Regions from separate parts of the Homo sapiens genome. Here region 2 is linked to region 1. A link means that fine-mapping ties the variant in region 1 to the expression of a gene that starts in the linked region. Tissue or cell type: testis. Region 1 holds a variant in brackets; the other region holds the start of a gene. All regions are shown on one strand. Distances are from middle to middle.

Region 1 (5,202 bases):
GGCCAAAGTCGTAACATCTCTCACTGCTCCTCACTGGATTTACCTTCACCTCACCTCATTTGTCCTATTGACTCCACCTAGGTCCCTTAAATTTTCCTTGCTCCAAAATAAAAATTGAGCACTGCTGTCCTAGCCCTCACCCCAGACAAGGTGACAGTCCACTGCATGAGAGATGGTGGCAAGGGGGTGCTTGTCTGGTGACTCTATGTGCAGTTCAAAATGTGATGTCTTTGTCAGGTGAATAGATTACGAGACCCATTTCCCCACAATTCATCAACAGAAACCTGGAGGGCTTATGTTTCCAGACCGGGCAGCTTTGTACGTGGTAGCGATTGAAGACAGACAGTACAAGGACTTCAAAATCCACTGTAAGTCCCCTCTTGCTTCTCCGGTGGACTTCCACTGCACAATTGGGGTGGGAGGCACTCCAGTGGGCCCGAGATGAGCAGGCAGTGACATGAACACCATTGCTGTCCCTGAAGAGGAGCTTATCTGGGACCCTTTCTGGAGTCTGCTCTCTAAATGTTTCTATCTAGTCCCAAGGGTGTTAGGTCTACAGACAGAAAATAAGCCATATGGCTGGGATGAGAGAAATGTCCTGGGGTGAAAGAATGAATGCAATGTGAATTAAAAATTGGACTGAGGCAGCAGAAGCTGAGTTTTTGCAGAGATCAGCAGGGCAAGTGGCTTGAAACCTGTCAAGGTTCAGTTAGCCCAAAAGTCCACCGCAGGGGTCTGAAGTAGCAGGTCTCTTGCCAGGCCAATTGTTTTGAATCCTGCCTCCATTCCATTCAAACTTATCAAAATAATATTGATTCTCTTATGCAAATACATATTATTTGAGGTTCTTTTGAGGAATAGATAGCAGAGGGGGTGGGAAAGAGTGGAGATTTTGCTTTGAACAATCAAACGAAAGGCGAGTGTGCATGTGTGCATGAGGCAGGGGCTCGTATCTAAACATGTATTCTTAATGCCTTATCAGCTAGGCGTGTGTGGTTCTCTGAGAACAATAAAGCCAAAAAACTTCTCCTCCCCCGCAATGTTTTACCTGGTCTGAAAAGGGCTGTTATCCTATTTCTCGTAAAGGGTGACACTTCTCTGTGACACAGGCCTGATCCTTAATGAGATTATACCAAACATGTTTTTGTAAAGTTGAACATGGCTGTGTCTCCTCAACCAGAACCAAATACAACAAAGGAGCAAAGAACCCCTCAAACAGGCAAACACCCAAAAATCCAAATTAAAGCAAGAGGCAGAAGCTCCAACCTATCCATCAGACTGGGCACATCTGCGGTTCCTGCCCCAACAGGGTGGTCCATTCCTACTTGGCAAGATTACTGTGGAGGGGTTCACAGATTGAGTAGAAGAATAAATGCCTCCAAGAGGCTAAGACTCCATCCACAGTTCAACAAATTGTGGCTCTGTGGATTTAAACAATTGCCATCTAATCGTCGTTAGTGGCACTGATGAAAACTCGGCTGGACTCTGCTATGGATGTGTGTATTTGTGTGGGTTCATGCCTTTCTGGAAATATAAACTCAAAGTGTGAAGTTCAGAGCCAGGTTCAGAAGAAGACAAAAGTGGGACAGCTGTTTGAAGCTCTGTGCCCTGGAAACCGTCTCTGGTTGCTGTCTGCCTCCAGCCAATCTGGTGTGATTTCCACTATTTGACCTCCTGGGGGAAGGAGGCAAAATACCAAATGAGGACAGTGAGAGGCAGGGGGGCCCAGGTTAAATGCTTTGCACACTGCCAGCCCTGGGTTTAAATCTTGGCTTTGCCATGTCCTAACTGGGTAACCTTGAGCAAATTATCTAATACCTTTGGGCCTCAGTTAAGGGATAATTTTCTCAATCCCACAGACTTGTCATGAGGATTAAGTGAGATGACATATATTAAAGGACGTGACAGTTCTTGGTCCTATAATGGGACTAGATGGGAACTAGTTTCTGACTGTGTAGCTAAGCCCCTTTCTGCCCCTGGCTCTGGCAAGTGAGCCTGACTGCCAAGCCCCTGGTGGCTCAGAATCTAGGACAGATGTACTCTCATGGAAGATTGCAGACACAACTCCACAGTGAGTGTTGATCAAATGCATGTATAAATAGGACATATTTTGCCCTGGAGCTGCATTTTGGAGTTCTTGCTGTGCAATTGTACTGAATAGTGTTTTGAGGAGGAAAGCTTCTAGGTACATTCTTCATTGTCAAGTTCACTTAGATATTTATTGAGCTCCAACCCGAGGCACACCTCTTTAAGAAACTTTCTCATGGTTTCCACAACAAAGATACCTGTGTCAGGAGCCTTTGCAGGTATGCACATTGCAATGAGCCAGCCTGGGGCAGGGAGGGGCTCCTAAGGCACTGGCCCCAGACTGGAGATCATGTGATTTCTTTGATTCTCATTGCAGTGTTCATACCTTTTGGAAAAGGAAAAAAAAAAATCTGAAAGTTAGCACCATGTTATCTTGTGCTTGTTCTAGAGTCTCTGAAAAATACCCCAACCTCCTCCCCACCCCAAAAGAACACCAAGAAACAGACACTTAAAATGTATTTAAAATACATTTTCTATTTACATTTTTGAAAATAATCTATTTTTTTGTAAAGGAAGCAAACCCACTTAGAAATTCATTTCAAATAAATGGAGACTTTGGTTACTATGAGTTCTAAATCAGAAGTAAAGCACAAAGGTTGCTGGTTGCTAAGGCAACAATTGTAAGCAA[T/G]TTTCTATTGGCTCAAGAACCAGCTAAGAAGGAAAAATTTTGAAATGAGGCAGGAGAGTGAGACATGTTCAGCCCCTTTCAGAAAGTAAGTTGTTAGAGGGAGAGCTTTCTTTCCTTTCCTCTCCTTTCCTTTTCTTTTATTTCCTTCCCTCTCCTTCCCTTCCCTCCCCTCCTTTCTTCTTCTTTCTCAACCACACACAGCAACATGGGAGTGCAAGAATGAGGTCAGTGCAGAACCTGCCCTCCATTTGCTCACCAATGAATAGAGACCACATAGAGACAGAGATAAATATCTGGCATATACTAGGCTCACAATACATAATTTTAACGAAGGAAGGAAGGAAGGAAGGAAAGTGAACCAGCAGAGGGATGTGCAAGGTGTAGTATTTAACTCTTAGAGAGGAGCAATCATTTTACACACATTTTCTACTATAAAGGAAATACACAGAATTTCAAAAATGGAAGGAAACTCGGTGGATGTTCTATTCAATTTCATGCACAACCCATGAATTGTACCCAGTGCATGAATCTACACCCTGCTGAGAATGAGAGAGATGGGCACCAGTTTCTTGGCTGATGAGAAGACTGAAAGAAAGACCTCATGCAGAGGTGGCAGTGCTTATAGCTTGATGGTTGAAGGGCGGCCCTCTTGGATGGCTCAGCTGCTGTCTGTGGGCTTCACTTCCACTCATGACATCCAGAGTTTCCTCTGGTTCCAGCCCATTTTATGCAAGGATTCCACTTTCTTCATGAGAGCCTAAAATGTGTCAATCTAGTGTAAACACTTTCCCTTCTGCACAGAGGAGAATCTGTAAGTAGCATCTGGTGGCACTTGTTCTATTTTTCTCTGACCTCATTCTGAGGCAGTCCCATTAGCCTCATCAGAGAAACTCAGATGGTTGGGGCTGGGGTGGTGAGGGAGGATGTAGCTACAGCTCTCTGCAATCAGAAATCACATTTCTCCCCTGGTACTTAATTTTCTTTCCTCAGACTGTTTTTGAGATTTCTGTCTTTATTGATTTTCTGCAGTTTGATTCTGATGTGTCTAGGTGTGTTTTTCTTTTTATTTATCCTGCTTGGGGTTACATGGAATTCTTGGAACTGTGGATGGATTGTTTCGTTAGTTTAGAAAAATTTCAGCCAGTATCTCTACAAATATTTTTTTCTGCCTGATTATCTTTCTCCCCTTCTTCAGGAACTCCCATTATATGAAATAATGTTTGATATTGTCCTATGGAGCTTGGATCCTCTATTTTTTTCACCCCTTTTTTCTCTTTGTGTTTAAGTTTGGATCATTTTTATTGCCCCGTTTTCAACTTTATTGGTTATTCCCTGATATATTCATTCTGTTAATAAGTTCATTTTAAAAAGTCTTCTTTCCTTATATTGTTATTTCGATTTCTAACATTTCCACTGGCTTTTTTAAAAAGTTTCCATCTCGCTAATGAAATTCTCCATTCATTGATGCACACTGTCCACCTTTTCCACTAGCTTCTTTAACATACTTAGTATAGATACTTTAAAGTCTTGTTGGATAATTCTAACATCTGAGCATCTCTAAATTTGGTTCTATGACTTTTTTCTTATGATGATAAGTCATATTTTTCCCTTTCTCATGTGTCTTATAATTTTTCATTAATGCTGGGCATTGTGAGTAAAAGGACCAGTAGAGACAGGTGAATCACACCTATGTCCAGAAAAGAGCATTGCCTCTGCCAGGCTATTAGAATGAGGGTGTGTGTGAGTCAATCTAGTCTGTATTAATAGTAGATTTGGGCTTTGTTGTTGCTTTAATTACATACATTATGCCATAGTATAGTCCTTTTTAGGAGTCTGTTTTCATCCATTAACAAAAGCTTCACAGGCCTCTCTGATATTATTTTTTAATTTCTAGATAATCATGATATTTCTTGATGACCAATGGCTCTTACCCCACATACACTTATTTGGCATACAGCATACAAATAATTATTGCAACAAATAATTAATGTGATTTATTTGTATCCTACTCCATCTCTGCTCCACTTCTGATAAAAAGGGCTACTGGGAAATAAATGGCCAGCAGAAAGAAGAAAAAAAAATCTAATCCCTTGGGTGATCTGTGCTCTGAATGATTGAAGGTGGGGCAGTCCAGCTGAGGAGATAAGACCCAAATTAACCCATATAAAGGTAACTAAAACACCAGGCATTGCAAAACAGTGCAGGCATTAAATGTTTGGGAATGAATCTCAATTCAAAAAACATTATCTGTGAGCCTATTCTGTGCTAAATGCTGTACTATGGGTGTTGAGGGTACAGGAGAGGTTATATGGTCAGGAGCGTTTAGAGAAGGTCTCACAAAGGCCATGAGACATTAAGATCACCATTTTTGGGACTTGAAGACAGTAAAGATCATGTACCCCAAAGGTTTCCAAATGGTTGGAATTGTCTGTATAGATTTGTAAAACTCCAGCTCCCTGGCTCTCAAATCTGGAGATTCTGATTCA
Region 2 (5,103 bases), 81 kb before region 1:
ACTACATTAAGAGCTCATCAATGGTCAATTCAATATGTTTTGTTGCCTCTTGTTAAGGCTAGTGCCTATTAATGAGCTGGGCATTTAAGAGATGCCTAGTAAATTATTTGTGGGATGACTAAACTAATTAACCTGGTGAAAGACTATGCTAATATATTTTTGCAAAAGAGATAGAGAAAGACTGAATTCACAGGAATGGTAGGGATGCTGAGAAAATAGTTCTACAAAGTACCTACTATGTGCTAGGCACTTTTCACAATCATAAGATGTGAATGTTCAGGTCATCTCTTGGTGTATAACAAATCACCCCAAACTTCGTCTCTTAAAGTAATAATTAGCTTGCTTGTGAATTTGTTCTTAGGTGGTTACATAGCAGGAACAGCACCTCTTTGTTCTAAGACAGCTCAACAGGGGGCTAGAGTATCCACTTTCAAAACAGTTCACTCCTGTACTCCAGCCTTTATGGAACCACCCTAGTGGCATAGGCTCCTCACTCACAGCCCCAGGCTGGCTCTGGGTTGGATGGGTTGGGACAGAAAACTCTTGCCATGAAAATATAGCTCTCCATCTCAGCCTCTCCACTCCCCATTCCAAAGGGAGACGTGTCTGTGCTTGGGGAGAAGCCAAGCAAAGCAAAAGATTTCAACAGCGAAAGGAGGAAACACACCCACTGAGGTTCTCATAGCAACATAATCACGCACAGGCAGCAGCCTATTTCGGTGGGAGCTTGTTTCAGCTCCCCTCCTCCCTGGTTAGTCACAGAAGGCATGCACAAGCAGAAGCAGTGTTGGGTGGGGGCAGAGTGTCGGACTGAAAGTCAGGAGGCTGGGGAGCTGGGTCCTCTGCTTGCTGATGGACCATGGGCAAATGTCCTCCTCTCTCCAATCTTGGGGTCCTTATTTGTAAAATGAGAGGATTGGACCACAGAGCGGTGAGGATCATTTCTTTTCTGATTTCCTTTGATTGCACAAACACTGAGACACTTTTGGTAGGGAATTAGATGTCTCTCAGAATCTTTTGTCTCTGAGAAGATGCCTAGAGAAAAGGGAATTCAATAGGATAAAAGTCATTCTCCAGATTCACATTTATTTTCCTACCACTTTCTGCATGTTGACAGAACGGGAGGAACGACTGGGTGTTGTCAAGGATTCTGCTCACTCACCCCCAACTCTAACCCAGGTCTGTGTTCTGAGAAGGGAAAAGGTTAAGGAGGTTAAGGTCATCTTTTTATTCAAGTTTTCACACACACACACACACACACACACACGCGCGCACACACACACACACACACTCAAGCCTCTTGCTACATTTTCATCCTTCTCATTCTTCATCCTCTCCTGTCTCTATCCCTCACTTCTCACCTCTACTTAGTGCAATGTATCCTCTCTTTGCCCGAGGACCAGATGATGGAGGCATGTTTCCTACTGAGAATGATTCTAGACCTTTTCTTCAATGGACTCTGGGGTTAGTTGAGGACAGTCAGGCTCACACTTCCCAGTTATCGAAGGTGATGATAAAAAGCAAATAGGGCATTTGGGAGGGACCTCCCCAAACAAGTACAGAGATGAAGTGAAGACAGCCGGGTGCTCAGGGAGCATCTTATAGGTCTCAGTCCTTGACTCGTAGGTTGAAAGCTTAAAAGTACAGCTGTTTTAAGGAGTCAGCCTGAGTGTCCTGTTGCAAAGGGAGAGGCAGAATGGGGTCCCCCGCTTTTGTTCTATCTCCCACTGCCCGACAGATGGCCAGTAAAACAGAGAAAAAGAAGCTCTCAAAGTGAAGACAGGAATGCATTGTATAAAAATTCACACCCCCTGCTGCCGCCCAAACTCCCTTAAAAAAGGATCAAGAGAATCCTGACGGGTACGTGACATCCTCCCTCTCTCCCATAAAAGGGACTTCAAAATCTGGCGATGGTGGGGGAAGGGTGAGGAGGGAGAAGAGAAATGCGTGGGCAGGGGGCTGCCAGGGAAGACTGGAGTGGGGGGGGGGGCACTGCAGTCTCGCATTTGACTTTCTCCCACCCTCTTTCCCAAGCCACTCTGGCCGCCACCTTTGCCCCTCCCTCTCAGCCTGAAAGGGGCTTGGAGTCCCAAGGGCTTTGGGTACAAAGAGAGAGAGAGAGAGAGAGAGAGAGAGAGAGAGAGAGAGAGAGAAAAGGATAAAGAATGACACCACACTTACCCCTAGAGTTGAAGGAGTTAAGGACCCTCCCCCATCCAGACACCCACCCCTTCGTTCCCCAAATCGTAATTCGCCGAGGAAGGATCCAGGAACTGGCAGAGGAGCGGGAGAGCTGGGGTGGGCCGGGGTGGGGAGGGTGCGAGTTAACTGTGGCCCGGTCTCGCCCGGACCTCGCCCTAGGTGGGAGCACGCGCACCGGGTCTGAGAACCTGCAAGAGCCTCGCCCGGCGCCGGCTTTCTCTGGGCCCCCCGCGCGGGCCTGGCCTCCACGTAAGTTGTGTGCAGCGCCAGGGAGTGGAGGCGGCCGAGACCCTCGGAGACTAGGGGAGGGGGCGGGCCCGGGGGCGCTGGGGGCCCTCGGTCTGCGCCCAGCCGCCGCCGGCTCCAGCGAACCTCCTACCCCGCCCCCACTCACCCGGCTCAGCCCCTAGGAGAGACGCGCAGGAAGCGTGTTGCTTCGCCCAGCGGATCGGCAGAAGTTGAGAGGAGTTGGCGGCTGCCTCCGGCCGGCCGGACTTTGCGAGCAGCCTGGAGAGGATCCGCGACCGCCGCCGCCGCCGCCGCGGAGGCTTCGGGGCTGCTTCCCTCGAGCTTAGCCCGCAGCGCGGGTGGAGAGGGGCGGGGAGGGGGTCGGGGGCACGAGAAGAACTTGAAACCGTGTGAAGGAATCCGGAGCAGATGAGAAGGGAGGAAAATAAAAGAAAGTGGAGACTGCAGAACAGACTCCGCTGTGGCTGACTGTGCCGGCCGACGCTCCAGCTGAGGGGCTGGGTTGGATTTTTTTTTTTCTCCCATCCTCTCGCTCTCTCTTTTAAAGCGACACCAGCTCTCTCTCCTCCTCTACTATCTCGGTATCACCAAACCCTTGCCGGCTCTTATGGGCATGAAACACTCCTCCCGCTGCCTGCTCCTGAGGAGGAAAATGGCGGAGAACGCGGCCGAGAGCACCGAGGTAAGGAGGCGAGCGAGCAGGGGCTCTCGGAGACCCCGCCGCCCACCCGGACCACCGCGCCGCCGCCGCCGCTCAGCGCCGAGTGCCAAACTTTCCCCAGTTTCATCCCGCTCGCTTCTGCCGGCCTCCTCCTGTGTGTGTGTGTGTGTGTGTGTGTGTGTGTGTGTGTGTGTGTGTGTGTGTGTGTGTTGGTGGGGGGTGGGGGGGAAGTTCATGTCTCAGGTCCCCTCCCTCTTGAAAATGCAAAACAGTCACTCTCACCCCATCACCCTCTCCTGCCACCCGCTGCTCCCTTCTCCCGCCCCCAAGTCCCAAACCCCGGGCAGCCGCGCTCCCCTGCCCTCTCCTCTGGGCTCCGTGAGGGCTCCCGGGTCCCGGCTTTGTGCAGAGCTGGGGTGGGTAATCCTGGGGCCAGGTCTGCCCCCTGCAGTGCCTTGACCGTCTCCTGCCGCTGCCTCAGCTTTACCCTTCAAGCTCGAGTCGGTTCCCGAGCTCTCCGTCCCCGCAGCCGCGCGGAGAGCCCCCGGCCGCGGGGGCCGAGCCGGCAGGAGGACTCGGGCACCTCCTACAGACCCTCCGGCCCAGATCTGGGCCAGAGAGAAGTCTGCAATCCTCAGATATCAGAGCCGCCTCTGGGTAGCTAAACCCGGCAGGGCACACGGGCCGCGGCCACCTTCAGCACCAGGGACAGCGTCCGCCCCTGCAGCAGCCGAGCCTGCGCGGACTGTGGGGGCTGCGCGCCGCCGGCTGCAGTGAGAAATGGGTCTGCAGCCACCCGTCCCGCAAGGGCTTTTGAGGAGGTCGCTCTAGCTCCGCAAATTGTGTTCTCGGCCCCCGCCTTCGGCAGCCTTTTTCTCTACTCTCCAGCTGGCCCTGAGCCGCAGAGAGCCCTGCTGGGCTTTGCGTCCCGAGACTCGAGGCTGTGATCCCTCGCCTCCCTCTGACCCCGCTGTCATTACAACAACCGGACTATTCCGTAGGCTCTGGGCACCTGTAGTCACGAAGGGGATCAGCGTGGGCAGCCCCCTTACCTTCCTGGAGAAACGGTGCGCCGAGATGGGGGCGGAGTGGGGCATGTGTGTGAAGATCATCCCTTACTCAGTGGCAGGAAAAAGACACAGAGAGCAAACTCCCAGGCTCTATTAATAGCTGGGTGTCTGGTGGGGCTGCCGCACATTTCACATATGGTTACCCATATGCAGCGGGGGGCGGGGATGGGGGTGTGGCGCGGGGATTGTCCCTCTGTCTTGCCGGAATGCAAAAAGGTAGAGAGACCCTTCCTGGTCTTCTTCCCTCGAGTTCTTAACTCTGCGCTAAAACCCCTACCCCACGGCGTAGGCAGCAAAGCTTTATAAATCCCCCTTCTCTGAGAGACTAGAAGCAGCATGCATCTGACAATTGTCAATTTCAAAACAAACACGCTCCGGGACTTGAACGCAGCGGGGCATTCAGTAGCGAATGCTGTCTCCTTGAGTTAGGGCAAAGCCTGCGTGCCCGCCGTCCCCTCACCACTTCCTCTTCCCCAGCCCCCACCTGAGAGCAGACATTCGGAATGATGTGTAGTGCGAGGCGGCTAGCCTCCCAGCAGAAAGCCATCCTTACCATTCCCCTCACCCTCCGCCCTCTGATCGCCCACCCGCCGAAAGGGTTTCTAAAAATAGCCCAGGGCTTCAAGGCCGCGCTTCTGTGAAGTGTGGAGCGAGCGGGCACGTAGCGGTCTCTGCCAGGTGGCTGGAGCCCTGGAAGCGAGAAGGCGCTTCCTCCCTGCATTTCCACCTCACCCCACCCCCGGCTCATTTTTCTAAGAAAAAGTTTTTGCGGTTCCCTTTGCCTCCTACCCCCGCTGCCGCGCGGGGTCTGGGTGCAGACCCCTGCCAGGTTCCGCAGTGTGCAGCGGCGGCTGCTGCGCTCTCCCAGCCTCGGCGAGGGTTAAAGGCGTCCGGAGCAGGCAGAGCGCCGCGCGCCAGTCT

What was found. PIP is the estimated chance that this variant, and not a neighbour inherited with it, causes the effect.
Region 2: PRMT8 starts here. The variant in region 1 is fine-mapped to the expression of PRMT8 in testis (GTEx, PIP above 0.99).

What each region holds. Positions count from the first base shown.
Region 1 is chr12:3,569,197-3,574,398 of GRCh38, forward strand. PRMT8 (protein arginine methyltransferase 8) reads left to right here. Exons shown (of 10, transcript NM_019854.5): 6 at 281-368. Among named protein-coding and RNA genes, the nearest start is that of THCAT155, 79 kb to the left of the region's middle. The variant T/G (reference allele first, on the strand shown) is at 2,717.
Region 2 is chr12:3,488,568-3,493,670 of GRCh38, forward strand. PRMT8 (protein arginine methyltransferase 8) reads left to right here and starts at 2,636. Exons shown (of 10, transcript NM_019854.5): 1 at 2,636-3,133. The coding sequence starts at 3,059. THCAT155 (thyroid cancer-associated transcript 155) reads right to left here and starts at 4,252. Exons shown (of 2, transcript NR_126055.1): 1 at 4,165-4,252; 2 at 1-1,035.